4 separate regions of the Homo sapiens genome follow, and all the other regions are reported to be linked to region 1. The links are microRNA targets in miRTarBase. Many come from high-throughput screens and were not tested one by one. Region 1 holds a microRNA gene; each other region holds the end of a gene's coding sequence.
What was found. The annotated mature microRNA hsa-miR-615-3p reads UCCGAGCCUGGGUCUCCCUCUU and lies in region 1 at 2,021-2,042, opposite strand. An mRNA with a match to its seed (bases 2 to 7 or 8) in the 3' UTR can be bound and repressed. Matches are read on the target gene's strand: a 7mer-m8 pairs with bases 2 to 8, a 7mer-A1 pairs with bases 2 to 7 and ends in A, and an 8mer does both.

Region 1 (7,591 bases):
TCCAGCACTGGTCTATGCAGCTCCTTTCCCAGTTAATTGTCCTGCATAGCCCGAGGCCCTAGAAGGTGGTGGAAACAGTCTGAACATTTCCTGCCAGGCTGATACACACTGCAGATTGTCCTCCCTGCTCCCTCTTCCCCAGTATCTTAGATACTGAGGCACACCTCCTCCAACTCTCCCAACACCCCCTTACCAAGCAATACCACCTCCCTCTAGAGGCCCTTATGAGACCAAATGGGTCCCTAGAGTGAGGGCTCAGCCCTCCCTCTATGTCCAGCAAGGCCTCTCAGGGACCACCTAGGCCCAGGAAAGATCTTCAGAGGCCCAGAAGGTCCTAAGGCTGAGCACGGTGGAGCCACTGGTTCCTGCACCGCAGCTTTGGCACACAGTGGGGGCTGCTGCCAGTCCAGAGGCCTCCTGGAGTGCAGAGGCGTGAAGGCCTTGGACAGCCACAGCATGGGAAAAGCCAGTACTCGAGGCCTAGGTGCCCTTCTCTTCCCCCAGAGGCTCTTGTTGCAGCCAAGGAACAGGAAAGGAGCTCAATTTCACCTCCCTCTACTCACTGCCCCTAGAAGCTAGAAAATTTTTTAAAGGGGTGGCTTAAAGTTTGTGGGTCTCCTTCTACATCTCACAGCCCATTTAGACAATTTTACCCAATACATGCCCCAAACAGACAGGAGCCACTGCATCTTTAGTCCTGTTCTCTCTTTATTTGATATGACAAAATATAGTTTCAGGAAGGACCCAGAGTCAATAAATAGTTGGACAACAGCAATGGGTCAGGAGGGCACAGAAATTCGTGGCAGGGACTATGGGACAGCAAAGGGCCTCTAGGACCACTTGCTGGGGTCCAGTGCCAGGAAACCCCACTAGTTGAGCTAGCTAGCAGGCTGGGGCTGCCGGCCTGAGAGGGCATGCAGCAGGCGCAGGCTGGGGAGGTTCCCGGGTTTTGGGGGGAAGAGGTTGTGGAGATAAGGTTTGGAAAGCATAGAGCAACTGTGGGGGCCCTAGGCCGATGCTCTCCTTTCATATGCAAATCATTCATAAGTGAAAATCTAGTTTAGTCGCTACAAGGAAGCACCCCGAGTCTAGGGCCAGACTCTCGCCAGCCTTTGGCTGTCTAACCCGTCCAGCCGGGAACAAAGGAGAGGGCGAGGTTAGAGGGTCCGGCGAGGGTCCTGTGGCGCGGGCCGGGCCCACCTTAACTCGGGAGGGCCGCGCTGAGGCTGGGAGCCGGAGATACGGCCCAGGCCAAGGTTCGTTCTGCGCCAGCCTGTACGCCGCAGCCCTCCGGGGAAGTCCTGCGGAGCTTGCCCTGGGCCCCGGGTACCGAGCTGAGCCGAGCTGAGGGGAGATGGGGCAGCGCCGACAGCCCCGCGGGAACCCTGGGTCGGTAGGGATGCGGAATGCCAAGGAAAAGCGCTTTTGTCTGTGGGGCCCGGGAGCCCAGTGCTCCAGCACCTGCCCCCGACCCGAAATATAGAGAGGAAAGGCGAAAAGGAAAGGCGCAGGGACAGGAACCGGCTAGGGGCGCGCTCTGCGGGCCTCCCCCGCTGCCTCTAAAGAGCCTCTTTGCTTTTCATTTTGGAATCTTTCTTCCACTTCATCCTGCGGTTCTGGAACCAGATCTTGATCTGTCTCTCATTGAGACACAAGTTGTTGGCGATCTCTATGCGCCTGCGGCGAGTGAGGTAGCGGTTAAAGTGGAATTCTTTCTCGAGTTCCAGAGTCTGGTAGCGCGTGTAACTGGTTCGGGACCGCTTGCCGTCCGTCTCTGGAACATAAACCCCACCCCAAGCCAGGAAGGGGTGAATAGCTTGCAGCGTTCCCCCGTCCCCACCCCAGCCCAGGCCCCCACCCGCGGCCGGAGGGAGAGGAGGCGAGAGCCGCAAGACAGGCCACGCGGGCCGCAGGCGGGCCAGCCCAGCCCAGCCCCGGGAGAGGCGCCTCCGCCCAGGCAGGAAACTTTCCACCGCAGCCTTCACTCTGCAGCCGGAGGGGCTGAGGGGGGGTTGGGGGGAAGAGGGAGACCCAGGCTCGGACCGAACAATAAGCACCCTCGAGATCCGAGCACCGGGGACCCCCCTCCCGCCCCTCCCGAGTCGCTGGAATCCTCCGGAGCCGCAAGCGCCGGCGGAGCCGGCTCCGCAGGGGAGGGAGGGAGGGAGCCGCGGGGGGATCCCCGCTCTGGAGCCCCGCGCTCCTCACCCTTCAGATCCCTCTATTTTTTTAACTCCCTCCCTCTCCCCCAAAAATTGAATATTGCCTTTTATACACGTTTTGTTCCTATGATCCAATTATGTCGTCGTAAATTTGGGCGCACACAGCCTCTAAGCCTTTTAGTGGACAGTTTTACGAGCCATTGATGCCTGGATCGTAAAATTTATGGCCGCAGGTTTTTTTTCTTTATTTGCCCCGCATGGCCTATAAAACCCAGGCGGACCCGAGAGCGCAAAATGAAGTCCTAAAGTTTACCGTGGCTCATGTGCAGTTTGGTCATCCACGGGTAAATCTGTGGCGGGGCCGGTGGCTGGCTCAGTCCGGCGGGCTGCCCTGTCTGCGCCTGCTCCTCTTTGATCTCCCCACTGCTCTTAGCTCGCTCCTCCAGCGCCGGGCGAGCCGCCTTCTGACTGTACATCCCGGGGTTCAGAGGAGCCGCTTCGTCTCTGCCCGGAGCGTGTCCCGGAGCGGCCGCGGCGCTGCAGGCGGGGCGGTCGGGGTGAGCCCGGGGGTTGGCAGCCATGTCTACCCCGTGGAGAGAGTTGGAAGGCGCAGGCGGTGGGAAAGTGATGCTTAAGTCCAATCCGCCGTAGCAGTACCTGGATGCCTGCACCTCTGAGGCCGATCCATAGTTCCCACAAGTTTGCATGTTATAGGCAGGGATATTGGGGCTCTGCTTATAGAATGAATTGGCTACGTAGGAGCTCATGGCGGGGAGGGCCCAAAAAAATTTCTGCACCCTTTTTGATTAAGGGTGATTTGTGACTCTTTGAAGTTGAGGGGTTTTTTGTTCTCCAAAGTGGACAATTTATAGGTGGAGATATCTCTTTCTTTATCCTATGCGCTCTTCCCAAATAAGGGAGCCTTAAATAGAGTCACGTGACTCGAGCGGCCACTCATAAATTTGGCTTGATGACCTCCGGGAGGTTAGTGATGGAAGCCGGCGAAAAGCATCTCGATATGTTGGCAAAGCCCAACCAAGGGGGAGAGGGAGTGAGAGAGAGAAAGAGGGAAGGGGGAGGGAAAAAAAAAAAAAGGTTCTTGGAATTGGGGGTAGCCGGGACAACAAGCCCACAGCGACACCTGGTGCCTATGTGGGGGAATTGCATCCTGGAGCGCCAGCTTGCTTTCCGGTGGCTGGATTTCCTACACTGTGAAGGAGAAGCTGGTTGTTGGGGCAACCCCTGAGCTAGCCTTTTAAATTCTATTTAAAATTGGGAAAAGACGAGGCCCCACTTATAACGCACAGAGTGCTTTTTGTAATGAAAGTCCCGTTCTCCCAACCTCCAGGGTCTTCCAATCTTCAAAAATGGCTGAGGAAAGGGGATTAAGTTAGGTAAGGTGGCCTATGCCCAGGCTGGAGAACCAATGGGGTTTAACTTAGGTTCCCTAAACCAAAGGTAGAAGTCCCTTGCCTCTCAGGCCCTAAGGCTCCACTACTGCTGAAGAGGTGCCTATCAGCAAGAGAAAGTAGAATTAGCTTCTGAAGAGGTAGACAGGACGCCCAGGAGGAGGGATCCTGAGTGGTCAGAACAAGATAGGGGGGTCATGAAGCTGAGGGTGTTGCAGGCTGTTTGGGATGGATCTGGAGGTGAGGAGCCAGGTGGAGTTGGCTAGACCTCACCATGCTAGGGTCCCCAGAGTGGCAACAAGGCAATTTTCAAGTGTGTGTGTGGACACGGACAGAGCCAGACAATGGTCTAGAGGACTGCTCTGTTTCCCTGTGTGCGATCCTTATGTGGTACCTATGCCAGAGGTTTTAGACAGAAAATAGATGTTAATTGAGGACATGGAGAAGCAAGATTGAAGCCTCCACAAATATTACGTGAGCATGGCAGAGGAAAAGGCCCGTTATGTGCCCTTTGGGGAAAAGGTCTCTGGGCTAGGCTTTCCAGGGACCTGAATCCATAAGGTTCACAAGAGAGCAATTTCTGAGCTACCAAGAGGAATGGGGCGGACCTGGGGGGTGGGCAGGGCAGGCGCCTGGGTAGCCTTCGCAGGGTATCTGCAGCCATTCGGCCCCATCCTCTTCCCCCGTAGCCCCAAGTCTCATACTTCCCTGCCTGCTTCTTCCCAGGAAATCTCCGCCCCGCCAGGAGAAGGCCCCCTCCTCACTGGTGGAGGCACTGGAGGCGAGGGTGGGGGCGCTGGAGGGAATCTGAAGGGCCCGGAAAACTCTGGCGGATTTTTTCCCTCCGGAGACCCTCCTCAACACCTCTCCCTGTAGGCCCACTCAGGTTTCTCTGGCCAGGCTTGGAGAGAGAAGGCCAGGGTTGATAAATGGTTAGGGTCCGGCTGCGCTCCTCACCCGCCTCTTCACCCGTTTGAGGAGAGAAAAGTAAGGAACCAGCCCGGCTGGAGCTGTAATGAAGAAGGAATTTTGTCCCGGCCACGTCAGGAGTACCAGAGCAGGCGAGAGCTCAGTTTCCAGGCTTTCTCTCTCGAGATGTCCTTGAATCGCTCAATCCCTGCCGACAGGGCTCCAGTCCCGCGGTCTTCTCTTTCCCTCCGCTCTCCGCCTCCGCTACGTTTCGCAACAGCCAGCTTGGCGCGGGCCTGGGGCTTGCTCTCACGGCGCCCCCCGCCTCCAACTCCCGGGAGTGGGTGGAGGAGACCCTGGTGCCTGGATAGTGCTTCTTTACTGGTCTTTCGGGGCGCCTCAGGGTTCGGACGCCGAGGACACCGGCTGCCACAGGCAGGAAGAAAGGCCTGCGTGGGGTTGGTGCCCAAACCGACTGATCCCAGCTCCCCCCGCAACAAAATCCTACGCGGCTTTTTCCCGCAGGGTGTGTGTGTTGCTCCGCGCAGGGAGCCCAGAGAGGCCTCCCAGCCCCTCAGTGCGATCGCGAGAACGAACAGAAGGCCGGGGCCGGGCGCCTGGGCTCCGGGGAAGGCGAGTGCAGAGGGCTGGGGGCTTGCAGGGGGCCGGCAGGCGCGGGAGCGCTTGGAGCCTGCTCCAGCTCTCACCCTGAGGCCGGCGGGCGAGCGAATTAACAGAATTCCCGGTATAAAGTTTTAAAAATAATATCAGTTTTATTAAATATTCGAGAACGGACCCAGAGGTTGGATTTATACAGGAGGGTAACACGAAGGGATTTATTTATTTATTTATTTTCTCCTACTGGCTAAACAAACGTCATTCACTTTTTTTCTCTCTTTTTGTAATTTTCCCTCTTTTTTTTCCTTTTTTGAAATTGGATAGGAACACTGACGGTGCTAAACATAAATATAAATACAGAGACCACAAATACAGCTAAAAATCTTCACACAGAAACGGTCACAGTTTGTAAAATGCCATAATGACCCCCAGGATTCTTTAAATACAATTTGCCTGGGCTGGGCATTTGCTGGGGCAGAGGGGCTAGGCAGGGACTGCGGGGAGGCCCTGGGGGTTGGTGTGGGGCCAAGGCGCGCCCTCCTTGGGCCTCCGGCCCTCCCCGGCTGCCAGGCCGGGCCCTGAGGCCCTGGAGCAGAGGCCCCAGCAGGCCCAGGAGCCGGCTCTCTGCACGGGGGGCGGGGGTGGGGGCGTCGAAGGAGTGGGGGAGCCAAGTCCTCACTTGGAGGGCAATCTGTAGAGTCTGAGTTCAGGGTCCGAGCCCCCAAGGCCTGGACGGGGAAAAGGGCCTGTAGACAAGCCGAGAACGAGCTAGCAAGGGAGCGAGGAGGAGGAGGCGCGTGGTGAAAGAGAGTTGTGCGGTGAGGGAGGGGGTCCAGAGCTGACTTTCAGGTCCACGTTTGACTCCCTAATTTTGTTTTAGGGAATCAAAACACATCAATTGTGCCAGTGATAAATACAGAGTGTGTGATTAGGGGAGAGTTGGTGGGGAGCGAGGGAGAAAGGGAGAGAGGGGTGGCAGGGACAGTCCTGGTCACTCTTTCTGCTTCTCCTCTTCTGTCTCTTCCCGCTTTTCCTCTTTTCCGCCCAGGCTGTCGGCGGTGGCCCCTCCGCCGCCCCCCGAGAGAGTGGATGTGAGATTAGATTCTTTTTTCCACTTCATCCGGCGGTTCTGGAACCAGATTTTGATCTGTCGCTCGGTCAGGCAAAGCGCGTTGGCGATCTCGATGCGCCGGCGCCGCGTTAGGTAGCGATTGAAGTGAAATTCCTTCTCCAGTTCCAGGGTCTGGTACCGCGAGTAGATCTGGCGGCCGCGCCTCCGGTCCGCTCCGTAGCCGACCCCTAAAGATCCGGGCACAAAACACACTAAAAGCAATCAGCAAAGCGTCCTCTGCAGACTGTTTCGCCTAGCAAAGTCCTGACCCTCCCAACCTGGCCAGCAGCTCACAGCCTCCTTAGGGCTCTAGCCTTCTCCCTTTTGCCTTGCCCCACCCCCACTGGGGGTACAGCGAGGACCCCAACTTCAGACCTCCTATAAGGTGGGACCTGTGTGTCCCAAAGAAAGGTGTGTGGTGGGGGGGGGGGCGGGGGGGCGGGGCAAAAGGCAAACAGAAAGCTGCAAGTCTAAAAGCAGATTTTTGAAAAATCCCAGATAATGGGGATGAGGGCCCCCTTTCTCAAGGACTGGGCTCCCCCATCTCCCCAAGCATCCTAGTTCCTTGGAAACTTCTCCCCACTTATCTGCCTCTCCTCTCCCCCTCCCTTCTCCTCAGACTGACTCCACTTTGGGGGGCTCCCCTATCTTCTGCTCCCTCCCCTCATCCCCTGCCCTGTTCCTGCCCCCTCAGCCCGCCTTGGGGCCCTCCAATCCGTCAGGGGCCAAGGGGGCCAGGCCCCTGCAAGCGAGCGAGAGGCGAGCTGAGGGGGCAGAAGAGGGGGCCCTGTCTCGGTGAGGAGACGAGCGTGATTGTTTTTATGGGGCCATAAAAAACTCTCTCCGCCCGTTCTTCTAGGGAAGCCGGTCATAAAGCCAGTTCAGTTTATTTAATTTATATCTCGGAGCTGTAAAACTCACCACTGTGCGAATTCATTCGCTGCATCCAGGGGTAAATCTGGATACTGGCTTTCTGGTCCTGGGGCGCAGTCCTGCCCTGCTCAGAACTAAAATCCTGAGCGATTGAGGTCTGTGTGTTATGTCCTAAGGTGTTTTGTCTGCAGTTTGAGAGCATGTCTTTCTCCTGGTAAAAGGAATTAGATCCATAGTCATACGGCCCCCGGCTGGAACTGAACACGACATTCTCCTGTGGCGAATAAAAGGGAGTCGAGTAGATCCGGTTCTGGGCAACGGCCGCTCCATAGGTCGAGAAATGCCTCACTGGATCATAGGCGGTGGAATTGAGGGCGACGTTGGGGAGGACGTCCTGGCCCCCGGCGAGGTGGCAGGATAAGGAAGGGTTAGTGAAGTAGGAATTCATCCCTTTGCCTTTACCTGGTCGGTCTATGATTTCTTTAATATTTATTTCTGTCTCCAGTTTG
Region 2 (7,591 bases), not on the chromosome of region 1:
ATTAGCCGGGTGTGGTGGTGCGTGCCTGTAATCCCAGCTACTCAGGAGGCTGAGGCAGCAGAATCGCTTGAACCTAGGAGGTGGAGGTTGCAGTGAGCCGAGATCGTGCCATTGCACTCCAGCCTGGGCAACAAGAGCAAAACTCCACCTCAAAAAGAAAAAAAAAAAAAAAGGCCAGGCATGGTGGCTCATGCCTGTAATCCCAGCACTTTTGGAGGCTGAGGCAGGCGGATCACAAGGTCAGGAGTTCGAGACCAGCCTGACCAACATGGTGAAACCCCGTCTCTACTAAAAATACAAAAATTAGCCAGGCTTGGTGGCGCACACCTGTAATCCCAGCTACTTAGGAGGCTGAGGCAGGAGAATCGCTTGAACCTGGGAAGCGGAGGTTGCAGTGAGCTGAGATCGTGCCACTGCACTCTAGCCTGGGCAACAGAGCGAGACTACATTTCAAAAAAAAAAAAAAGAAATCTTTTTGTGTGTAGGATTCTGATGTTGTAAAGAGATAAAGATTGATGCTGTCAACTTCTGGCCTGAGTGGGCAGTGTGCATAGCTGCAGTGTTCTAATAGCCTGTTTTCTCCTTTCTGTCTCTCCAGCTGTCCCTGGGACACCCCAGTATGTGGACGAGCAGTTCCTGTCACGCCTCTTCCTATTTGTGGCCCTGGTGATCATGTTCTGGCTCCTGATTGCCTAATGCTGGGCTCCTGCCTACATCCGTGGCAGGGCTCTGGACTGGTGACGTGCCACCCCAACTCCTGGTGTTTGGCTTCCTGGCTAATCTTGACTCCTGGAATCAGTGGGATCAGTAACACATCAAGGAGTCTTGTTTCTTCATCAGAGCTTTGGAACTCGAGACCAGTTGGCGATGACCCCTGAATATCGCCACCGCTGTAAACACTCTATAACTTCAGGCCTTGGCATTGAGTCATCTCTCATGGGTGACACCATGAAATCTTGTTTCAGCCAGTTCTGCAGGTCCTGACTCTGCAGAGGGAAGAGGCAGAAAGAGAGAAACTGTCAGAGTATAATTTCACCTGAGTTTAATATTACAGAAACAAAGGGATGCACCAAATGGTATTTCTGGAAATTTTCATGTCTTTAAATACCCCTTGGTAAGTTGCTTCTGAAGCCAGTGGGGGCTCCTCAGATAGAGAGGTTCCCCTTTCAAATCCCAGTGCCGCTCTGTTCTCTTTCCTTCCCCTCCCACTCCCCCTCTTCTTCCTCTGTAGAGATGCAAGAAATTGCTGTCCCATAAAAATCATAATTGCAGTAGCTAAAGCTGGGGTCACTTCGTGAATTCACCAGAGACTCAAAGATCTTTTATTGGCTCTGGGCTGTGCTCAGTGTCTTTGGCCTCAGAGAACAACTTGAATGACTTCCTGGTTTCCTGGCATAAATTATTCCTGGTGAGACATGTGGCTTAACTCACAGGTTTCCCATCAGCTTTCTCCCTAAAACTATGTTCATCTGCCTCTCTCTGCCAGAGAACATACAGCCGAGAATACTGCCGAAGCTGAGACTGACTACTGTGCATTAGGAAAGACCTGGAGTCAGGACTTTGGTGGGATTTGGAGCTCCGAGGCAGTAATAACTGAACAAGCAGCCCTGTCCCCTAGGCTGCAGAAGCTTGAATGCATCCTCTCCCAGAACCTGCCACAGGAAACTGGGGGCTTTGTCAGGTCAGCCCAACTGCATGCAAAAGACCACCATCCTCAGAAGCCAAGTTGTCTTTTATGAAGAGGCAAGGAAAGGGGAAACCCACATGTGACCCTGATTTTGGTATGGCTTGATAGAGTTCCCTGAAAACTCCTTGTATGTGTGCTAAAACCAGGGAAGCATGTGACTGCCAAGCAGGCAACCCCTGATGATTTGTAAAGCCAGGTGGCAGGGCCTTGGGGAGCCCCAGCACAATGATATTGTGTGGTCTTCCCTCCTGTGGAATCGAGGGGAAATTATTCTTCCCAATACCTTGATTTGATTTTCAGTTTCATAAGCTTCTTCCTCTGAATCTTATTGAGGGACTATGGTACCAAGCAGGTAGGACTGTTCACCTGGTGGAACAGTTCTTGCTCTGCCTTCTAGGCTTCATCCCAGAAATCCAGCCTCTTTCTGGAGACCCCAAAGCTGGAGGGAGATGGGCTTTCCTCTGGGCCTCTCTCCTACTTTGCCATCCACACTGCTCCTGGCTAACCCCAGCAATAACCAACAAATGGTAGGAAGCCCCATCTATTGCTTTTTCTCAATTATGACTGCATAGTTTATGGAAACAAAGATCTTGAGGAAGATGAGGGAAGCCCTCCCCTCTTCACAGTCCCCATCTCTTCTCCTTTGTACCTGTCAACACCAGAGTTCAGTGTTTAAACAGACAAAATATAAAGTATTGAGTAGGTGGTTCATATGCCGAATCCACTTGGTAGGAAGAAACCACCAGCTTTATAGTGTGCCTGATAGATTTTAAACATTCCTGGGCACCCACTCAAGAGTGCTCTTTTTATCACCTTCTGGAAATCCGCAAAGTTGCAGGGGCCTCTGGAGTGTCTCTTCTCTAGAGAGAATTGGTGGGACCCCCCTCAGTGCAGTGGCCCCAACTAGTGGAGGGAGAGAGGACTTAAGTCAGATGGACTCAACAGAAATGGGTTTCCAGAAGAATAATGAAAAGTTGTGGGTAGGAAAATGAATCATTTGGACTCTTCAATGAAATGGAGTGAGCCCAGGAGAGCTCAGCCAACAGAGGCACTCTGGGAACCTGTTAGTAAAGCCAGGCTGGCCAAATGCCATTTGATTTTGAACCTCGTAGGTCCCCACTCACCCTCTGCCAGGAGCTAAGTAAGGCAGGAGAGCTGACTTGGGACTCCTGGCTCGGCCCCAACAGGGAGCCCCCTTCCCACCATCCCTCGGCAAGCTCACCACCTCATCCTTCTGCCAAGGCAGCTTTCCTTTCTTTTGTGTGTTTTCTGTGTTCTTAGCCTCCACCCTCCTCCTGCCACCCTTGTGGACTAGGACCAGGTCCTGACCCCAGTCAGAAAATGATGATATGTACAGTGGCACACCTTAACCAGTCACTAATTTTCACTGTTGTGAAAGTGATTTGATTTAGAATTAAACAAATGGTTTTACATTACTATGAGCTTGGACTTCTTGTCTGTGTTGTGGAGGGCGAGTGGGTGGGGAGTAGTCACACTGGTATGCCCTCCTGGAGGCTCCTGTGCATCCTCCGTAATGTCACACTGAGAACGAAAGTCTTCAAAGAAGCTGGGCATGACTTATGCCTGTAGTCCTAGTTACTCTGGAGGCTGAGGCAAGAGGATTGCTTGAGCCCTGAGTTTCAAGGCTGCATTGAGCTATGATCATGCCACTGAACTCCAGCCTGGGTGACAAAGCGAGACTGTCTCTTAAAAAAAAGGAAAGAAAGTCTTTAAACGACTATTGATAATTAGAGATGATAAATGTAGGCTGGAGGCCTGGCTTCATACACAGCCTTGCCCAATATAAAACCTGTCTGACAGGCAGCCCCAGTCCTGACAAGTACATGGCATTCCTGAGCTTCGTAAGTGACAAGCTGCCACAATAGAGCTTAGCTTGTCACTTATCAGAGCCTTTAGAACAATCAGGTTACTCACTGTCAGCGTCTCTCCATCTGTTTAGTAACAGGGCAGGTGGGCTGTCAGCCAAGTCCTCTCTCTCGAGCAGAAGGTGTGTCCCTCCCTAAGGTTCCTTAGTAGCAGGGTGTAGTGTGAGATGGAAGATGTTGCTGAGGTTACAAATCTGGCCCAGCCTCAGCCTTCCCAACATGCCAGAGCTACAAGTAATTCCTCTGAAAAGAGCTTTTTTTCTTCCTCTTAGATTTTGATCTAACAGTTATCAAATTGAATAGTACCAAGATACAGTGGGGAATGCAAAGGTGAGGGAACTTCAGGAGCTCATAAGCCCAATGAGAAAAGACCAGGTTTTTTTTTTTTTTTTGAAAGATTTTAATTTTAGGCCAGGCATGGTGGCTTACACCTACAAACCCCAGCACTTTGTGAGGCTGAGGTGGGAGGATCGCTTGAGGCCAAGAGTTTGAGACCAGCCTGGGCAACACAGGGAGACTCCATCTCTACAAAAATAAAAAATATTAGCCAGGCACAGTGGTGCATGCTTGTGGTCCCAGCTACCCGGGAGGGAGGCTGAGGTGGGAAGATCACCTGAGCCTGGGAGGTCAAGGCTGCAGTGAGTTGTGATCATGCTAGTGCATTCCAGCCAGGGCAACAGACCCTTTTAGAAACAGGGTCTTACTCGGGTGCCCTGGCTAGAGTGCAGTGGTGTGATCACAGCTTACTGCAGCCTGGAACTCCCGGTCTCAGTAGGTTCTCCCACCTCAGCCTCCCAAAGTGTTGGAATTACAGGTTTAAGCCACCATGCCCGGCCTTAGGTTTTTGTTTTCGATGGGGAAAAAAAAAAAAAAACAGTAGTAGAACAGGACAATAAAGCCTCCATGTAGCCATAACCCAACTCCAGTAACTATCAACTCAGATCAGTCTTGTTGCATCTATACCTCCCGCACGCTGTTCCTCTCCCACTGTCTGAACTATTCGGAAACAAACCCCAGTCATGTCATTTATTAAGTATTTCGATATGCATCTCAAGTATTTTAAAAACAAGCAAAATATGCCGGGCACGATGGCACACACCTGTGATCCTAGCACTTTGGGAGGGTGAGGCGGGCGGATTGCCAGAGCTCAGGAGTTTGAGACCAACCTGGGCAACATAGTGAAACCCCGTCTCTACTAAAATACAAAAAATTAGCCAGGCGTAGCGGTAGGCGCCTGTAGTCTCAGCAACTCGGGAGACTGAGGCAGGAGAATCGCTTGAACCCGGGAGGCAGAGGTTGCAGTGAGCCGAGATCGCACCAGTGCACTCCAGTCGGGGCGACAGAGCAAGACTCCATCTCAAAAAAAAAAAAAAAGCAAAATACCTTTAAAAAATTTCTTAAAATCATCATATCCAATCACATTGTTCAGATTTCCCTAGTTGTCTCATAACTTGTGTAGTTTCAATTGAGATCCAAATCAGTTTCATACATTGCTATTATTTGTCTCTGAATTTTTTTTTTTTTTTTTTTTGAGACAGAGTTTCACTTGCCGCCCAGACTGGAGTGCAGTGATGCGATCCCAGCTCACTACAGCCCCCGTCTCCCGGGTTCAAGTGATTCTCATGCCTCAGCCTCCTTGGTAGCTGGGACTACAGGCGCCCGCCATCATGCCTGGCTAATTTTTTGTTTTTTTGTGTGTGTGTTTGTGTGACAGAGTCTCGCTCTGTTGCCCAGGCTGAAGTGCAGTGGCGGGATCTCGGCTAACTGCAAGCTCCACCTCCTGGGTTCACACAATTCTCCTGCCTCAGCCTCCCAAGTAGCTGAGACTACAGGTGCCCGCCACCACGCCCGGCTAATTTTTTTTGTATTTTTAGTACAGACGGGGTTTCACCATGTCAGCCAGGATGGTCTCAAGCTCCTGACCTCATGATCCACCCGCCTCAGCCTCCCAAAGTGCTAGGATTACAGGGGTGAGCCACCTTGCCTGGCCTGTCTATGAAATTTTTTCTACTCTGCAGTTTATCTGTTAAAGAAACTAGGTTATTTGTCCTGTTGCATTTCCCACAGCATCATTTTTGCTATTTGCATCATGGAAATGTTATTAAGCTCCTCTTCTCCATGTATTTCCTGTAAGTTGGTTGTTAGATCTAGAAGCTTGACCAGATTCAAGCTTATTATTTTTGTTTTGTAAGACTACGTCATAGGTGATAGTATATACTTGGTGCGTCTTACCTGGAGGCACTTAATGTCTGGTAGTCCTACTTTGTGATGTTACAGATGCCACTATATCATTTAGAGTTGAGAAACAAGACTGCACTCTGGGCAGAGTGGGGCACAAAATTACAGAGAACCTGGAGAGCTGGTTGTTGTAGGAATGGCAGGTGGCGCAAGGCAGGATGTGCTCAGGAAAAAGCAGAGTCCTGGAGTGAAGGGAATAGGGAGACAAGTCCGCAGGGTGAGATGTAGTCAGCTCATGAGGACTGGTTTGGCTTTTATTTTGTAGGCAGTGGGGTGCTGTTGAAGGGTTTTGAACAGAGAGATGACAGGTCCAGAAACATACTTTTGGAAGATTAACACAGTCAGTTTTGGGTAGGATGATTCAGGGAGGGCAGAGACTGGCTCAGTTTGAAGCAAGTGGAAGTGACACTGGGCAAGTCTGGTTGGGTACCAGTGGACCAGTACCTTCAAGAGGGCAGAACCTTGAGTTGTTTTTCAAGGTCCAGGTTTCAGGATCCTAGGCTCAGAGAGTTGACTGTGAGGCGGCTGGCAGGATCTGGCCCTAGGGACTGACCAAGCTATGGCCAGTGAAACAAACTGTGGACAGGTAACCTGGGTGCTATTGAAACTCAGTTGGTCTACTCCCTGCCCAGGCTTTCTCTACCCTCCAGAAGTCCCCCTTGAGTTCACAAGTGATTTCTGGAATGTTCTTTGGGTCCATATTAAAAATATATCTCTTGGCTATAGCATTTCTATAGAAAGCTATTCCCTTCCATTACATTTTCAACTTGTGTTTCTCAGAGTCGCCTGAACTTCCCTGGGAGGAACTTGGGGGACTTGGCTATTCCCCAGCTCCCTGCTGGTGAAGACCATGAGGCTGGAGGTAGGAGGAAGTGGAATGTGAGAGAGAATGAGGAGGGAGAAGAGATAGACCTGGGTGCCTTGGTGTGGAACGGAGGGAGAGGGAAGACACCCAGGAGGTTTTGGTTCCCAGGATGCCAGTGCTTTGTTGCCTGGGAAAATACAGTGTTACATCTTTCTGTAGGAAGGATGGGGAAAGTCCCTGTCCCCTGTTTGCTAGCCATGAGGCAGCTTGTCAGGAGAGTCTCTGGATTCCTGTCACTTTAATTCAATACACAATCTTGTGTTTACTATAATGATTTCCTCAGAAACTACAAAACTGAGTACTGAAAAGAGTTCCCAGGAATTAACGGAAATGGGACAGAGCCCTCCTCCCCAGCACTTTGTGCACACTCAGGACATCGTGAGCCACCTGCCACACCCAGAAGAGAAAAATCTGACCGGCATCCGGTTTGAATTAGAGCAGGAAGGAAGAGAATTGTGCTCGCCTTTGTCTTTGCCTTTGCCTTTGCTTACCCAACTGCTGGGACCAGAGGCAGCTGGGTTGAACTTTGTCTTTGGTCAGGGGTGGGGGTGGAGGGGACAGAATCCATTTCCCTGGGCTCCATCCTCTTTCTGGTCATTTGGACATGTTTCCTGTGATCTAAATCTGATGTAAGGAAATGACAATTGTGAAAGACCCAGCGTGAGAGAATCTGATGGGAGGGTGGGTCATCAGGGACCAGCTGGCCTGGCTGATGATGTATTAATATCTTAATCACACAGAGGACCCCAATCTCCTTCCAAACCTAATGAGCGGAAGTGGTTCTCAAAGCTACTCAGCCAGCTAGCAGCTGCCATAACCCAGTCAGCTGTCCTAACTCTTAGTCCTGTAATCCCTCCTCCTCATAGAAGATTGTAAACTGGCAGCCCACAGGGCAAATCTAGTGGCCAGGTGTGT
Region 3 (7,591 bases), not on the chromosome of region 1:
TGCCACCAGCTGCAGGGGTCCCTGGGGCTGCCCTTGGTTGATAGGGCTGGCCCCTCTCAAGCTGGGTGTTTCCATGACCCAGCTTCTTCCCCTGGCTCTTCTGCTCCTACCTATCACTCCAAGCACACCCCAGTCCACACTGCTCTCCTTCCCTGAACTCCCACTGGCTTAGTGGGATCAGGGTTGTATCCCTCTGGCCATTACCAGTCTCTTTTAGTGGCCCTGGCTGCCCCAGGCCAAGCCCAAATACACTGTCCACCCCTGTCCCTGTGGAGACTGCCTGGACCGCCTGGTCCCCGTTTTTATCCCTGGCTCTCACCTGATCATCATCTTCCTCTTCCTCCTCCTCGTCAGTATCCTGACAGGCTGTCTACAAGAAGTAGCTCAACTTAGCGGAGCTTTCACGCCCCTTCTCTTTTCATGGGGGTAGGGGGTGGACTTGTAGCCAGTCCCCAACCGAGGCCCAGCACCTCTCCTTCCCGAAGCCCACCTGCCCTGCTCACCTTCCTCTGCAGCACAGCCTTGAGCACGCCACAGAGCTCAGCGAGGCGCCCAGGGGGCTTCAGTGTGAGGGTCCCACAGCTGCGGAGCACCCCTGTCAGGGCCTCCAGCACGGCCATCACCACCTGGCGTTCCCGCTCCCTGTTCACTGCCTGCATGTAGGATGGCACGACTCGGGCCAGGGCAGCCTGCAAAGCTGGGGACATTATTGGCTGAAGCACCAGTCAGGCCCTGCCCCTCCCCAAGAACCCCCAGCCTGGCCCAGCCTCTCCTCACCAGCAGTGTTGGGTTCCGAGGGGCAGCTTTGACAGGCCTTGTGCAGTGCACAGCAAAACTGACCCAGAGCCTCATGGGCTGCCTTCCGCACATTCAGGTGAGGGCACTGCAGGATGAGGAGGGGCGGGATATGTCTGCTATGTGCACCGTGAACACAGGGCCCCCAGCCTGAGAACCCCACCCACTCCACCCGCCGGCCCGCTCACCTCCAGCAGTTTAAATACTTCTTCAAAGACACTTTCCATGTATGGAAGGAAGGCCACACTACAGAGAGAGACACAGCCGTGGGTAAGGGGCCCCCAGGCAGGGTTTTCAGTGCCAGGGAAGGGCGAATGCTCACCTGGTGTTCACAGAGATCTCCCCCACGGCAGCACAGGTGTCTTCCTTCTCATCGAAGAAGGCATTCTCCACGCTGTACCTAGAGTAAGAAGGGGAGGCAGTGGTGATCAGGCACCAAGAGGAGCAGATCCAGCACTAGGCCCTTGTCTAAAGCCAAAGTCTAGATTCCTGATCAGAAGAGCACCCCTCCGCACCCTGAGATCTCTGAGTCATCCTCTTCTTCCACATCCTCATCCATGAGCTCCTCCTCTTCTTCCCCATCACTCTCATCGTCAAACAGAAGGAAGGAGCTGCTCCCGTCATACTGAGGCTGGAGCGGAGGCACGGCAAGGACTTTGGCTCAGCTGGGCCCAGGAGATAAATCCCATTGCAGGGCAGGCCTGGCCCAGCCCACCCACCCTTTGCTCACCACAATGCCCTCGGTGGAACGCAGTGACAGCAGCATGAGCGTGGTGATCTGTTCCAAGTGGGGCGCCAGGCCCTCACCCATCAGACCCGATAAGGCTGCAAATAGGCTGTACCTGGTCAAAGCAGGCAGAAGAAGCTGTAAGGTCCTGCCTGCTACCACCAGGCAGGATGGGGGAGCCCGGGAACACCTGGCTATGGTCCAAACCAGACGACTGGAGTCTGGGGTGGGGATTCCAGTGGGTCCAGTGGGAAGACAGGAGGGGAGGGGACAAGGGCAGAGGCAGGGTGAGGGGTCACTCACGTGCAGCGCCGCAAGTCAGGGTCGTCTACCTGGTCGCAGAGGCCCAGACCCAGCTGGCAGCATTCCTCAGCCAGCGGCCTCATGGGCTCCCCCACTGCTCGTGCCAGCACCCCCAGTGTCTCTGTGGGGGCAAGGGCTCCATTAGCACCAGGAGGTGGAGGTGGGCTACGGGACCAAAGGTGGTGGCTGGGAGGGATTCAGAAATCCCGCCCCACCCCTTGGTACAGCATGAAGCACACCCCTTTGATGAGAAGGAAGACATCCGTGCTCCTGTGGGGGCAATCTGTCAACACCAGGTGAGCACCAGCCCTTTGCTGGCACTGGGAGCCCCACCTGGGAACCTCTCACTCACCCAGGCTCTGGATCTGCACAGGCTGAAGGTCCTCACGGCCTGTTAACAGGAATTCCCGCAGGTGCTCCATGATGGCAGGGAAGTAGGGCAGCAGCGAGGCCTGGGCAGCCGTAGCTGCAGGATGGAAGGACAGAATCAGAGCTGGAGAGGGCAGGGACCACCAGCCACAGGGCCTTTGGGTGAACCCCACATCCCTGCCTCCTGCCTCTCTCCTCACCAATGGCTCCCAGGGCGCTCACAGCCAGCTCCTTGGCCCGGGGACTGCTGGGGTTCCTCAGAAGCTGCAGCATGCATTCCATAAGCTCCGGAAGGTAGGGCTGCACCTTGGGCCCTGTGGGAAAGGATGCTCCTCTACCAACCAACCCAGGTCTGCTACCTGCACGCCCACCTCCCTCCAGGCGGAAACCTTTTTTTGGCACCATCACACCCTTTCCCCTACCACAGGCAGCAATGCAGGGAGATGCACATCCTGTACATTCAGCCAAAGCCGCCGCCTCATCCCCCTTCCCCAAGCTCCCCACTGCCATCACTACCTAGGTTCTCCACAAAATTCTCCAGGGCATAGCAGGCCTTGGCTAGGTGGTGTGTGTGTCCAAGAGGCACCGACTTCAAGTAGGCGAGGAGCAGTGGCATTACCTCCCTTGAATAGCTGCTGATATGGGGCTGGGGGAGGGAGCAAGCAGGGCCTGAGTCAGGTTCACCTGCCGGGCACACACAAGAGTGCTGATGGCAGCAGGGATGCTTGAAGAGATGAAAGATGAGGGGAAGGGGACATTCAAGTGGTGGCTCCCACATTCAGCCTGGTTCACCTGTAGGTTTTCTGAGAACTGGCCCAGGGCAAACAGCGCAGCATTGCGTACAACTTGCGAGGGGTCCTCCAGGCCCTTGCACACAATCTGCAGCAGTGGGGGCAGCAGTCTGGATGGGGCAAACAAGAGGACATAGGCTGAGAAGCTACACCTGAGAGCCCTAGGCTGACCTGTTCTCTTCATTTTCCCTGGAAAAACCAAGGCTTTTCCTGTCACCAGAGGGTGGGCAGCAGCCCCTGGTCCCTATAGCTGGTAAGCCATGTCATTTATCTTCCAAGCCAGGACACTTTTGATAATGGGGGGAAACGCTGTTGATAAATAAGCTTGAACAACAAGCGTAAACCAGGACAGCCATGGTCCTCCCTGTGGGCAACCCTCACCCTGGGACAGGGGAATACATACCTCTGCCTGATGTGGTCGCCAGCTCCGTCAGACAGCACGGCCAGCACCAGGAGTCCAGCTTTGCGCTGGTATGGGCTCTCGCTCCGCAAAGCCTCTTCCAACATGGGCATCTAGGGAAGCATGTGGCACGCTTCTGAAACCCCAGCAAGAGCCTGCCCATTCCTGTGGTAATAGGCCTTCACACCTCCCAGGGTCTAAACGTCGTTGGCCTCAGGGGGACTAGGCACACTTGGAGGTAGGGACACCAGAAGGACAGAGCCACACTTACCAGCTGGGGACAGAGCTTCTCGGGGGGCAGGTGTAGTGCCAGCATGTCCACAACCTGAGATGGGATGGGGAGACTTACTTTGCTTGACTCCATCTCTGCCTCCCCAACGTCCCACAGCCACCTAACACCTTCCCCCTCTGTCCTGCCCCACATCTCACTTGTACAGCGAAATGCTTGGGAGTCTCCCCCATCAGCTCAATCTCCAACTCTTCCTCTTCTGAATCCTGGTCCTCGGGATCCAACTGGCCTGGTGGGGGCTCAGCAGCCACAATGGGGAAAAGGGTGTGCAGCAAGGGTGGCAGGAGACGATTCTTCAGTAAGGCCTTGACAGAGAAGGTGGAACAGTGTCCCTAAGAATCTGCTCCCAGGATGGGCTCACATTAAAAATTCCAGTCTTCCAGGCCATAAGGGGTCTGACAGAAAATTCCCAACCTCCCAGGCAGGAGCTGGGGTGAGGCCAGGCCAAGGCTTGAACCCCCACAGTACTTTAGATACCCTGAGATGGACCGAAAGCCCCAGGAGTGAGACTAAGGGTGGAGATGGGGGTGGGGTGATGTGTGTCAATGGGCACTCACTTACCTTGCTCTTGACTTTGACCAAGAAAGTGAGGCAGCAGAGAATACGTATGCGTATCGCATTGCCCAGGGCCACATTTCTAGCTACCTGTCCACAGAATAATAAAAATCAGCGACAGGGAAGGAGAGTCCCAGCAGAGCATGTAGCAGGGGCCATGTCCACTCCAGGCTCACCTCCAGGCAGAATGTGAGGACTTCAGAGAGGTAGGGGGTGATGACCGGCACCTCTGACTCCAACAGTTCATCCAAAGCCTCAAGGGCCTCACAGGCCTTTGCCTGACAGACAAACAAGGCACAAGGTTACCATGCTCTTCTTCAGTGGGCCAAACTGGACACTTCTGCACTCTCCTTCCAACAGAGCTCCTGCCCACCTGTCCTCACCTCATCTATGGGGATCAGAGTCTGCATGGCCATGATCAGCTTGGGCACCAACATCCGAGCGAGAGGCTGAGGGACACATCACAGAGAGCATGATGCAGCCCAATCTCACACCCCAGCAGCTGGCAGCTTCCTCACAGCCTGAATTGCGAGGAGGAGCCCAGGCATAACAGCCAGGCCCACCTACAGCATCCCCTCTCAATTGTCAGGAAGGGCCACAGGCAGGTAAAGAATCCAAAGCAGCTTTGTAACTTTTACGGGTGAGGACATGAAGGCATGAGGAAAGGGAGTCAAAGATAACGAGGGCCCACATCTCACCACATCTTCAGTGCTGAGGTAGGGAGCCATGGTGGTCAGAGTGCGCAGGGAGTAGAAGAGCAGCCCAGGAGAGCCCACCTCACCAAGAGTCTCATTCAGAAGCCGAAGAAGCTCCCGGTGGTGGGGTTGGAAGGCCTCGGGCCGGGAGGTCACCACCACACTTAGCAGCAAAAGCCCCATCTGTCCAAGAATAGAGGATGGGAGAGCAAGCTTACAAGGTCTATCCAGCCTCTCAGGCCCTCCCTCCTGCCAACCATGTGATGGTACCTCTCTCTCTGGGCTGTGGGGGCTGTGGGTACTGTGCTGAAGCAGCTGCAAAAGCTGTGGCCAGGCCTCCAAGCCTTCCTTTCGAAAAATGGTGGCTGAGAGCTGGGCCAGGCTGAGGCTCACACAGTGCCTGCAAACAGGAGAGATCTCCTCCAATCACCCTTCAATACCTTCCTCTGCACACAGTGGCCAGGCTCAATGGGGCAGCCAGGACAGAAACTTTCAGGAGGTGTGGGCACAGGGTCTTTGCCAAGTTGGGACACATGAGACAGCAGCTCAGAGGGAGCCCAACAGCACTGTGGGCATGTAATCTGGTAAGTTCAGTCTAACTTAGCCTGAATTTCAGTCTTATTCTTCTGACTTGGGTTTGGCAGATCATCATCACCCTTCCTCAAGAACTTTAGTCTTCAAAACAGCCTTAAAATCCTCACTCCACCTTGCGTCTAGAACTGAAGTCCCTGCCCCACAAGTCCCAGCCTGGAGCCGAAAAGGAAGGCAGAAACCTAGACAAAGTCGTCAAGATCCCGAGAGAAGTGGGTAGGTACTTACTCTGTTTCTCTCTGCAGGGCCGTCAGGATCAGGGACTTGAGGCTGGAACACAGGTGGCAGGTGTTTGGTACCCAGCCTGCCCAAGAAAAGTCTCCGCCTGGCCCCGCCCCACCCCAGGCCCAGCCCACCTCTCCCGTTGCTCCGCCGCCAGCCGTCGCCAGCGGGTGTTCAGTCGTCTGCGGGTCAGCACGGCCGCAAACTGGCGGATCTAGGACGAGGAAGCAAGCACGTGGGGGTCCGGGCAGGAAGGTGCTGAGCGGACCGCAGTGGGCGAATACTGGGGCTTGACCGGTGGCGTACAGTGGGAAGCTCGGAGGGGAGAGTCAGGGGTCTCACCTGGGGGTCGGCCGCCGAGGCTAGCAGGTCGCAGAGAGCCGGCAAAGCGGCGGGGGCCCGAAGAACGATCTGGAGCTGTTCCGTGGCCTGGGGGGAAGCTAGGGGTGAGAGTTGGGCCTTTCCCGCAACCTCCCGCTCGCCCTGGCCCGGTTACGCCTGCTCCGTACCCGACGGATGCGCTCGGTGTCCGGTAGCAGCAGCTCCCGTAGGAGCTGCTCTAGCCCGGCTGACTCCATGGCAGCAACTGAGCCGCCGCTACTGGGCCGAAAAGGGGAGGGGGAGGGACAGCACGTGGAGGTTCTGACACCCACTTCCGGAGGAAAGGGCGTTGCTGCACGCCCCGCGGGTTGCCAAGGTGATTCAATTCGCTTCCCACAAAGAGGTCCGGCTCCTCCACTTCCGTTAGGCTGAGCACCGGCTGAATCGCGGAAACCCGACTCTGGCAATGTAGGTTCCCCACGCCGGGAGTTCCCAAGCTGGGTTGGAGAACTCGAGCTTCGGGCATTCAGTGGCCAGCTCGGCTTTATAAAGGACCGTGCCCTTAACAGCAGGGCTCGAGTTCCTATATCCAGACCAAAACCTCCAACTGCATGAGCCTTTTTCTTAATAAATTTTATTTTGGTAATTGTAAAAAGAAAAATCAGGACCAAAACTAAAGGCAACTTAAAAAGTTCAAATATATAATCCTTATGTGATAGAGATTTATAATTTCCAGGCCCTCTCTGGGGAAGGAATGCCCAAAGGGCAAAAGGGAAGGCAACAATGCCATCACACAATTCAGTCAATCAGAAGAGAAGCTGGTAGGAGAGTTCAACAGGGCATGAAGAAAGGGAGAGAACAGCAATAGTTCTGCCATACAGAACTCAGTCCATCTTGAGGTTAACATAGATATACCGGATGAACTTTAGGGAAGAAAAAAAGGAGATGGTGCCCAGCATGAGGAAGAAGACATAACCAGTGAGTAAGGAGTAGCCGAAGAACTCTACTGTCTGTACTGCCCCAGACATGTTGGAGCGCCGGGCATAATAGAAAACTGAGTAGAGGAAGATGAAGAGGCCGGTGGAGCCAACACTCAGCACAGATCGCCACCACCAGCGGTAATCCTCCCCAGACAACTGGAAGTAGGTGAGTGCAATGGAGATGCAAGCCCCCACACTCAGCAGGATGGCGAAGACAAAGAAGAGGATGCCGTACAAAGTGTACTGCTCCCGACCCCATACTGTGGCAAAGATGTAGTACAGCTCCACAGAGATGGCACTGTGAAGAAAAGAGATGATACACAGCATTAAAGGGCTGTGCACCATCAGCACAGTGGCTGGGCTGAAATCCAGCCCCCACCCTCTCCCATGTTGCTGGGTCATTGTGAAAAGTGAGTTCACTCCACTCTCTGCCCCAGATCTCCTGGCTTCATGGGGATTTTTTGCCTATGATTAGCCGCTCTCACTTCAAGAATATCTTCCCTAATAGATTGAGGGCAGGGATCTTGTCCATTTTATTCCACTTTATTCTTTG
Region 4 (7,591 bases), not on the chromosome of region 1:
CAAAAATTAGCCGGGTGTGGTGGTGGGCACCTGTAATCCCAGCTACTCAGGAGGCTGAGGCAGGAGAAACGCTTGAACCCAAGAGGCAGAGGTTGCAGTGAGCCGAGATCACCCCATGGCACTCCAGCCTGGGTGACAGAGTGATACTCCATCTCAAAAAAAAAAAAAAGAAAAAGAAAAAGGAAGGGAAATTTCCAAGGCAAGATTCCAACCCAGCCTGCCTTTCAGAGAGGCGCAATTGCAAAGTGTTCATGAGAACGGACTGCGAATCCTTGGTTCGAATCATTGCTCTGCTGCTTGCTGGCTACATGGTCTTGGGCGAGTATCTTACCTTCTCTGGTGTCAGTTTCCTCATCTGTAGAATAAGTGTGCTAATCATAGGATCTCCTCGCCGGGCCATGGTGATGATTAAATCAGAGGTACCAGTAACTCGGGCAGAACTGTGTCTGGCACTTGGCAGCACCTGGATCACCTTCCTTCTCTCCACCTTCGCGGCACCTGTAACTGCAATGTTGTCCTCTGCCTTTTCTCCCGCCCTGTCCCCTCCCACCTCATCATGTCCCCGGCCTCTCTGCAGATCCTCTGGACCTTCTCCATCTACCTGGAGTCAGTGGCCATCTTGCCGCAGCTGTTCATGGTGAGCAAGACCGGCGAGGCGGAGACCATCACCAGCCACTACTTGTTTGCGCTAGGCGTTTACCGCACGCTCTATCTCTTCAACTGGATCTGGCGCTACCATTTCGAGGGCTTCTTCGACCTCATCGCCATTGTGGCAGGCCTGGTCCAGACAGTCCTCTACTGCGATTTCTTCTACCTCTATATCACCAAAGGTAGCTGGAATGTGGGACGGCTGGAAGGGAACCTCCTATTTCTGCAGCTCCTGCCCTCCCTGGGGACTGGGGTCTCCTTACCCCTGTATTATGCAAAGAAGGGAGCATTTCTTCGCCGGGTTTCTGGGGTGGCAGGCCTACCATCCTCCTAGGAATTCAGACCGTTAGCCTCTGCCTCCCTAAGGGCTAAGGAGTTTCTGTCCTTAGCCCCCATGTCACTTGGAGCGTAGGCCAGGCAGGGCAGGGACTCAGCCCACTGAAATTCATTCATTTATTCATGCAACAAATGTATTGAGTACTTTCTATGTCCCCAGCCAGGTGCTAGGCTCTGGGGATACATTAGGAGGAGAAAAGATAGACAAAGGCCTCCATTTCCCTTTTATTCTGGTGGGGGAGATGGTGAATGAACAAGTAAAGAAAGAATTAGTTGGGCATGGTGGCTCATACCTGTAATCCCAGCACTTTGGGAGACTGAGGCAGGGAGATTTCTTAAGCCTAGGAGTTCCAGAGCAACATAGCAAGACCCTGTCACTATAAAAAATAAAAAAATAAAAAAATTAGCTGGGCATGGTGGTGCACGCCTGTGGTCCCAGCTCCTTGGGAGGCTGAGGTGGGAGAATTGCTTGAGGAGGTCAAGGCTGCATGGAGCTGTGACTATGCCACTGCACTCCAGCCTGGGCTACAGAGTGGGACCTTGTCTCAAAAAAAGAAAGAAAGAAAATTGCCAGTAGTGAGAAAGGGTAGGAAGGAAAGAAACCAGGAATGTATCTGTGAGTCCTGGGGGACCTCCCTCCCTGTGGATCTGCCCATCTAGCGTGCCTGCCCTGCTCTGGCTGTGGGAGGCTGTCCCCTCCCTGCAGGGGCCCCAGCGGTAATGCCCTCCCTGTTTTCTCTCCTCACAGTCCTAAAGGGGAAGAAGTTGAGTTTGCCGGCATAGCCCCGGTCCTCTCCATCTCTCTCCTCGGCAGCAGCGGGAGGCAGAGGAAGGCGGCAGAAGATGAAGAGCTTTCCCATCCAGGGGTGACTTTTTTAAGAACCCACCTCTTGTGCTCCCCATCCCGCCTCCTGCCGGGTTTCAGGGGGACAGTGGAGGATCCAGGTCTTGGGGAGCTCAGGACTTGGGCTGTTTGTAGTTTTTTGCCTTTTAGACAAGAAAAAAAAATCTTTCCACTCTTTAGTTTTTGATTCTGATGACTCGTTTTTCTTCTACTCTGTGGCCCCAATTTTTATAAAGTGTTTTTGAGTGTCCTATGGGCCGGGGCAGGGTCCAAGATCTTTTCCCTTCCCCAGGCCCCTCGGCTCCCTCCCAGATCCCACCCCCAGCCCCACTGGTTGCCAAACACTAAATCTGCCGACACCCATCTGCCCCACCTCCTGCCATGGCCATGAACCGCGACCCCCACTAAATTTCTAGATTGGGGATAGGGAGAAAGGGAGGCCCAGGAAGGTCTCCCCTGATTTTTTTTCATAGTAATTTTTTTCCCCAGAGTTTGAATTTTTTGGTCTTCTCCTGGTTTTTTGGCAAATTAGGGGGGCCCGGGGCTCAAGTGCGGGAAGGGGGCTGGCCCGAGGATCCCATGGCTCTCACACCATGTTTTTGTACAGAACTGATGGTTGAATCTTTGTTCTCTTGAAATAAACAGAAGAAAATGAAACCTTTCTTTTGCTGCTCCTTGCCACTCTGTCCCTGGTGTGTATGGGGTCCCGCCCCCGCCCCTCTTTCTGCTTCTGCTTTTGCCTTATTGACTATCTGTAGGCGACGAGGCCTAGGAGGAGCAGGAAGAGGAGAAACTGGGTCTCCCAAGACTCTCAGCTGTGCAGTTCCTCGCCGTGCTGCTGGGAAGAGGTTTTGGAGAGAATCTTGAAGAGTCTTCTTACCTTGGCACAGAACTTGTCTGATGGTTCTCCAAACCCTCAGGGTTGCAGAGGACCTTCAGGAGAATTGGCTGGGCATGGTGGCTCATGCCTGTAATCCCAGCACTTTGGGAGGCTGAGGCGGGCGGATCACCTGAGGTCAGGAGTTTGAGACCAGCCTGACCAACATGGCAAAACCCCGTCTCTACTAAAAATACAAAAAAAAATTAGCTGGGCGTGGTGGTGTGCCCCTGTAGTCCCAGCTACTCAGGAGGCTGAGGCAGGAAAATTGCATGAACCCAGGAGGCGAATATTTCAGTGAGCCGAGATCACACCACTGTACTCCAACCTGGGCAACAGAGTGAGACTCCATCTCAAAAAAAAAAAAAGAGCATGTATGTCAGGGACCACACATGGGCAGCCCCCGTCCTACCCTCACTTGACATTTTTTGTTGAGGCATTCTGTTTCCTTAAAAAAAGAGAATGGGTCGCTAGCCTTTAAAAACCAGATTTTCACATTTCTGGCTTCTCTTGAAAAAAAAAATCCATCAGTCTAACAATGCTGGGTCCTCATTTCTGGGTGGCAACAGATGGCTGGATCTGAATGGATGGGACGCAGCTCTTTTCACCACAGTCCCCAGGACTTGGCTGCAGGCTTGTTACATTTATTATTGGGCTGATGCCGTGTGGTTATTTTTGTTTGTTTGCGAAGTTAAGAGGAAAGTGAAATATTTTCCTTGTCTCTCTCCAGATTGGCCTCACACCTGGCCTATTTTCTTCACTTACGTTACCTGCCTGGCTGTTGTTGGCTTTTGGATTTTTGACCCTTGACTAGGTCAAACTTCCTAGATGTCCTCTAAGACCTTCCTAACTGTCTGCAGCTTCCCTGGAGGCTGGCTCTGGAAGCCTGAGGAGGCAGGGAGCTGGCGTTTCCTGAGCACTTGATATGTGCCAGGTACTGTGTGTTACATAGATGAACTCCTGCAACCCTCACAGCATCCCTACAGAGGGGGCACTTTGTGGATGAGGAAACAGGTTCAGAGGGGTGAGTGGCAAAGGTGGGCTTTGCACCTGGACTTCGTGATGCCAGAGCTTGTGTGTTTAACCAACGCTGTGTGGTTTTTCAGCCGGTTTTTTGTTTCTTTCTCTTAAGTCAAGGGACCTTCTGTTTAGATTTGTGCCTGGAAGCCCGATATGGAAAACACAGGAGCGGGGCTGCTCGCTCGCTGGGGTTGACTGGGGAAGGGGGTTGTGTTGCTGCCTGCTCAGCCCAAGGCACCTCTTTTTTTTTTTTTTTTTTTTTTTGGAGACAGGTCTCACTCTCCCAGGCTGGAATGCTGTGGCGCGATCTTCTCTCACTGCAACTTCCGCCTCCTTGGTTCAAGTGATTTTCCTACCTCAGCCTGCAGAATAGCTGGGACTACAGGCGTGTACCATCACACCTGGCTAATTTTTTTTTTTTTTTTGAGACAGTCTCCCTCTATTGCCCAGGCTGGAGTGCAGTGGTGCAATCTCACCACACTGCAACCTCCGCCTCCTGGGTTCAAGCAATTCTCCTGCCTCAGCCTCCCAAGTAGCTGGGACTACAGGTGCCCGCCACCACGCCCAGCTAATTTTTGTATTTTAGAGACGGGGTTTTACTATGTTGGCCAGGCTGGTCTTGAACTCCCAACCTCAGGTGATCCACCTGCCTCAGCCCCCCAAAGTGCTGGGATTACAGGTGTGAGCCACCGCGCCCGGCCTAATTTTTGTATTTTTTGGTAGAGATGGGATTTCACCATGTTGGCCAGGCTGGTCTCAAACACTCCTGACTTCAAGTGATCCTCCTGCCTCAGCCCCGCAAAGTGCTGGGATTTCAGGCGTGAGCCACCGTGCCCAGCCCCAAGGCATCTCTCTTTTTTTTTTTTTTTGACAGAGTCTCGCTCCGTGGTCCAGGCTGGAGTACAGTGGCGCAATCTCAGCTCATTGCAACCTCCGCCTCCTGGGCTCAAGCAATTCTCTGCCTCAGCCTCTCAAGTAGCTGGGATTACAGGCGCCCACCACCACACCGGGCTAATTTTTGTATTTTTAGTAGAGACGGGGTTTCACCATCTTGGCCAGGCTGGTCTTGAACTCCTGCCCTCATGATCCACCTGCCTTGGCCTCCCAAAGTGCTGGGATTACAGGCGTGAGCCACTGTGCCCAGCCTAGTTTTTGTATTTTTTAGAGATGGGGTTTCACCATGTTGGCCAGGCTGGTCTTGAACTCCTGACTTCAGGTGTTCCACCCGCCTTGGCCTCCCAAAGTGCTGGGATTATAGTCGTGAGCCACCGCACCCGGCCGGCATCTCTTTGAATAGTCTGAAAAGCATCCATCTAAATCCGGTTCAATTCTTTAGCTGGGTGCAGTGGCTCACGCCTGTAATCCCAGCACTTTGGGAAGTGGAGGTGAGAGAATTGTTTGGGCTCAGGAGTTCAAGACCAGACTGGGCAACAGAGTGAGACACTCTCTTTAAAAAAAAAAAAAAAGGCCAGGCACGGTGGCTTATGCCTGTAATCGCAGCACTTTGGGAGGCCGAGGCTGGCGGATCACGAGTTCAGGAGATCGAGACCATCCTGGGTAACAAGGTGAAACCCCGTCTCTACTATACAATACAAAAATTAGCTGGGTGTGGTGGCATGTGCCTGTAGTCCCAGCTATTCAGGAGGCTGAGGCAGGAGAATCACTTGAACCTGGGAGGCAGAGGTTGCAGTGAGCCGAGACCGAGCCATTGCACTCCAGCCTGGGTGACAGAGTGAGACTCCATCTCAAAAAAAAAAATAAATAAAAAACAAAAAACTAACTGGACATGGTGGCCTTTACCTATAGTCCCAGCTACTCAGGAGGCTGAGGTGGGAAGATTGCTTGAGCCCAGGAAGTTGAGGCTGCAGTGAGCCATGATGACTCTGCTGCACTCCAGCCTGGGCAACAGAGATCCTGTCTTTAAAAAAAAAAAAAATCTGTCTAATTATTTAGTTTTATAGCCAATACAACTTGGGCCCAGAGACAGTAAGTGACACACCCATGCTTATCCAGAGGGACGTCTAGTGCTGAGTCCTCTCATTTCCATGTCAGAACACTTCCTGTCTCACTGCACTGCTGCTGTTTTCTCTCTATACCCAGCAGGACCACATAGTTATTTCTACACCTCCAGGTACAGGGCCAGCCACACAGGAAGCCTCCAAAAAAGGACTAATGGAACCCAAATTTGATTCCCCACATCTCATATCCTTTCGTCCGGTTTGTGAACTAGTGCTCTGCAGGCCACGATGGCCCCAGGCAGGTGTGTTTCGTTTGGACTGCCCAACGTTTATTTTGTATTTGTTACCCACCGATTTCACTTTTTTTTTTTGAGATGGAGTCTTGCTTTGTCACCCAGGCTGAAGTGCAGTGGCACCACCTCGGATCACTGCAACCTCCACCTCCTGGGTTCAAGCGATGCTCCTGCCTCAGCCTCCTGAGTAGCTGGGACTACACGCGCACGCCACCACACCTGGCTAATCTTTGTATTTTTGTTTTTTTTTTTTTTTTTTCTGAGACAGAGTTTCACTCTTGTTGCCCAGGCTGGAGTGCAATGGCACGATCTCAGCTCACCGCAACCTCCGCCTCCCAGATTCAAGTGATTCTCCTGCCTCAGCCTCCCAAGTAGCTGGGACTAGAGGCATGCGCCACCACGCCCAGCTAATTTTATATTTTTTAGTAGTGATGGGGTTTCTCCATGTTGGTCAGGCTGGTCTCGAACTGCCGGCCTCAAGTGATCTGCCTGCCTTGGCCTCCCAAAGTGCTGGGATTACTGGCGTGAGCCACTGCACCCGGCCTAATTTTTGTATTTTTAGCAGAGACGGGGTTTCACCATGTTGGTCAGGCTGGTGTTGAACTCCTGACCTCGTGATCCGCCCAGTTGGGCCTCCCAAAGTGCTGGGATTTTAGGTGTGAGTCACCGCACCTGGCCTGATTTCACATTTTAAAACCTGCCACAGAATGGATGTCCAAACTGTCGTAGAAAAACCAGAGTTTCTGTAGCTGCACTGTCTGGTAGGGTAGCCAGTGGTTATGTGTGACTGTCAAGCCCCTGAAACCTGGCGAGTCCAAACTGAGGCGTGCTATTGGTGTAAATACACGATGGGTTTCAAAAACTTAGTACCAAAGAGTGGAAAATGCCTCACTAATAATTTTTATATTGATTACATGTTGAAATGATATTTTGGATATATTGACATAAATAAAATATTAAAATTAATTTCACTTGTTTCATTTTACTTTTTTTTTTTTTTTTGAGACAGAGTCTCATTCTGGAGTGCAGTGGCATAATCTTGGCTCACCGCAACCTCCACTTCCTGGTTTCAAGTGATTCTCGTGCCTCTGACTCCCAAGTGGCTGGGATTACAGGCATACCCGGCTAATTTTCGTATTTTTAGTAGAGACGGGGTTTCACCATGTTGGTCAGGCTGGTCTTGAACTTCTGGCCTCCTCAAGTGATCTGCCCACCTCAGCCTCTCAAAGTGCTGGGATTATAGGCATGAGCCACCGCATCCACCTTGTTTTACTTTTCTTAATGTGGCCACTAGACTATTTTAAACTCCCCTTGGGTGTCACATCAGATTTCAAGTGGACAGCACTGTTCTAGAAACCCCAGGCTGGCCAGGCGTGGTGGCTCATGCCTATAATCCCAGCACTTTGGGAGGCCAAGGCAGGAGGACTGCTTGAGCCCAGGAGTTCAAGACCAGCCTGGGCAACATAGTGAGATCCCATCTCTTCAAAAAAATTGAAAAATTAGCTGGGAGTGGTGGCACACACCTGTAGTCCCAGCTACTTTGGGGCTTGAGGCAGGAGGATTGCTTGATGCCAGGAGGTCAAGGCTGTAGAGAGCTATGATTGTACCACTGCAC

Region 2: miRTarBase lists RNF185 as a target of hsa-miR-615-3p. Seed matches in the 3' UTR shown: 7mer-m8 at 2,859-2,865.
Region 3: the mRNA of TM9SF1 is a reported target of hsa-miR-615-3p. The part of its 3' UTR that is shown has no 7-base or 8-base seed match.
Region 4: miRTarBase lists KDELR1 as a target of hsa-miR-615-3p. The part of its 3' UTR that is shown has no 7-base or 8-base seed match.

What each region holds. Positions count from the first base shown.
Region 1 is chr12:54,028,461-54,036,051 of GRCh38, reverse strand. It overlaps MIR615 (microRNA 615), which reads right to left and starts at 2,102; the gene lies at 2,007-2,102. HOXC6 (homeobox C6) reads right to left here. Exons shown (of 2, transcript NM_004503.4): 1 at 7,131-7,591; 2 at 5,229-6,397. The coding sequence starts at 7,530. The coding sequence ends at 6,090. It overlaps HOXC5 (homeobox C5), which reads right to left and starts at 3,002. Exons shown (of 2, transcript NM_018953.4): 1 at 2,476-3,002; 2 at 691-1,774. The coding sequence starts at 2,929. The coding sequence ends at 1,560. It also overlaps a transcript of HOXC4 not described here. RefSeq lists a silencer at 1,904-1,963 and enhancers at 2,047-3,198, 3,193-3,487.
Region 2 is chr22:31,203,891-31,211,481 of GRCh38, forward strand. RNF185 (ring finger protein 185) reads left to right here. Exons shown (of 7, transcript NM_152267.4): 7 at 599-3,129. The coding sequence ends at 696. Among named protein-coding and RNA genes, the nearest start is that of LIMK2, 4.6 kb to the right of the region's middle.
Region 3 is chr14:24,182,473-24,190,063 of GRCh38, forward strand. TM9SF1 (transmembrane 9 superfamily member 1) reads right to left here. Exons shown (of 6, transcript NM_006405.7): 6 at 6,677-7,336. The coding sequence ends at 6,943. IPO4 (importin 4) reads right to left here and starts at 6,344. Exons shown (of 30, transcript NM_024658.4): 1 at 6,247-6,344; 2 at 6,080-6,166; 3 at 5,872-5,951; 4 at 5,744-5,785; 5 at 5,195-5,324; 6 at 4,928-5,107; 7 at 4,613-4,678; 8 at 4,406-4,507; 9 at 4,236-4,319; 10 at 3,815-3,979; 11 at 3,657-3,710; 12 at 3,389-3,498; 13 at 2,987-3,095; 14 at 2,711-2,840; 10 more. The coding sequence starts at 6,315. RefSeq lists silencers at 5,340-5,550, 5,796-5,915.
Region 4 is chr19:48,377,469-48,385,059 of GRCh38, reverse strand. It overlaps KDELR1 (KDEL endoplasmic reticulum protein retention receptor 1), which reads left to right. Exons shown (of 5, transcript NM_006801.3): 4 at 578-830; 5 at 1,733-2,485. The coding sequence ends at 1,767. Among named protein-coding and RNA genes, the nearest start is that of KDELR1, 10 kb to the left of the region's middle.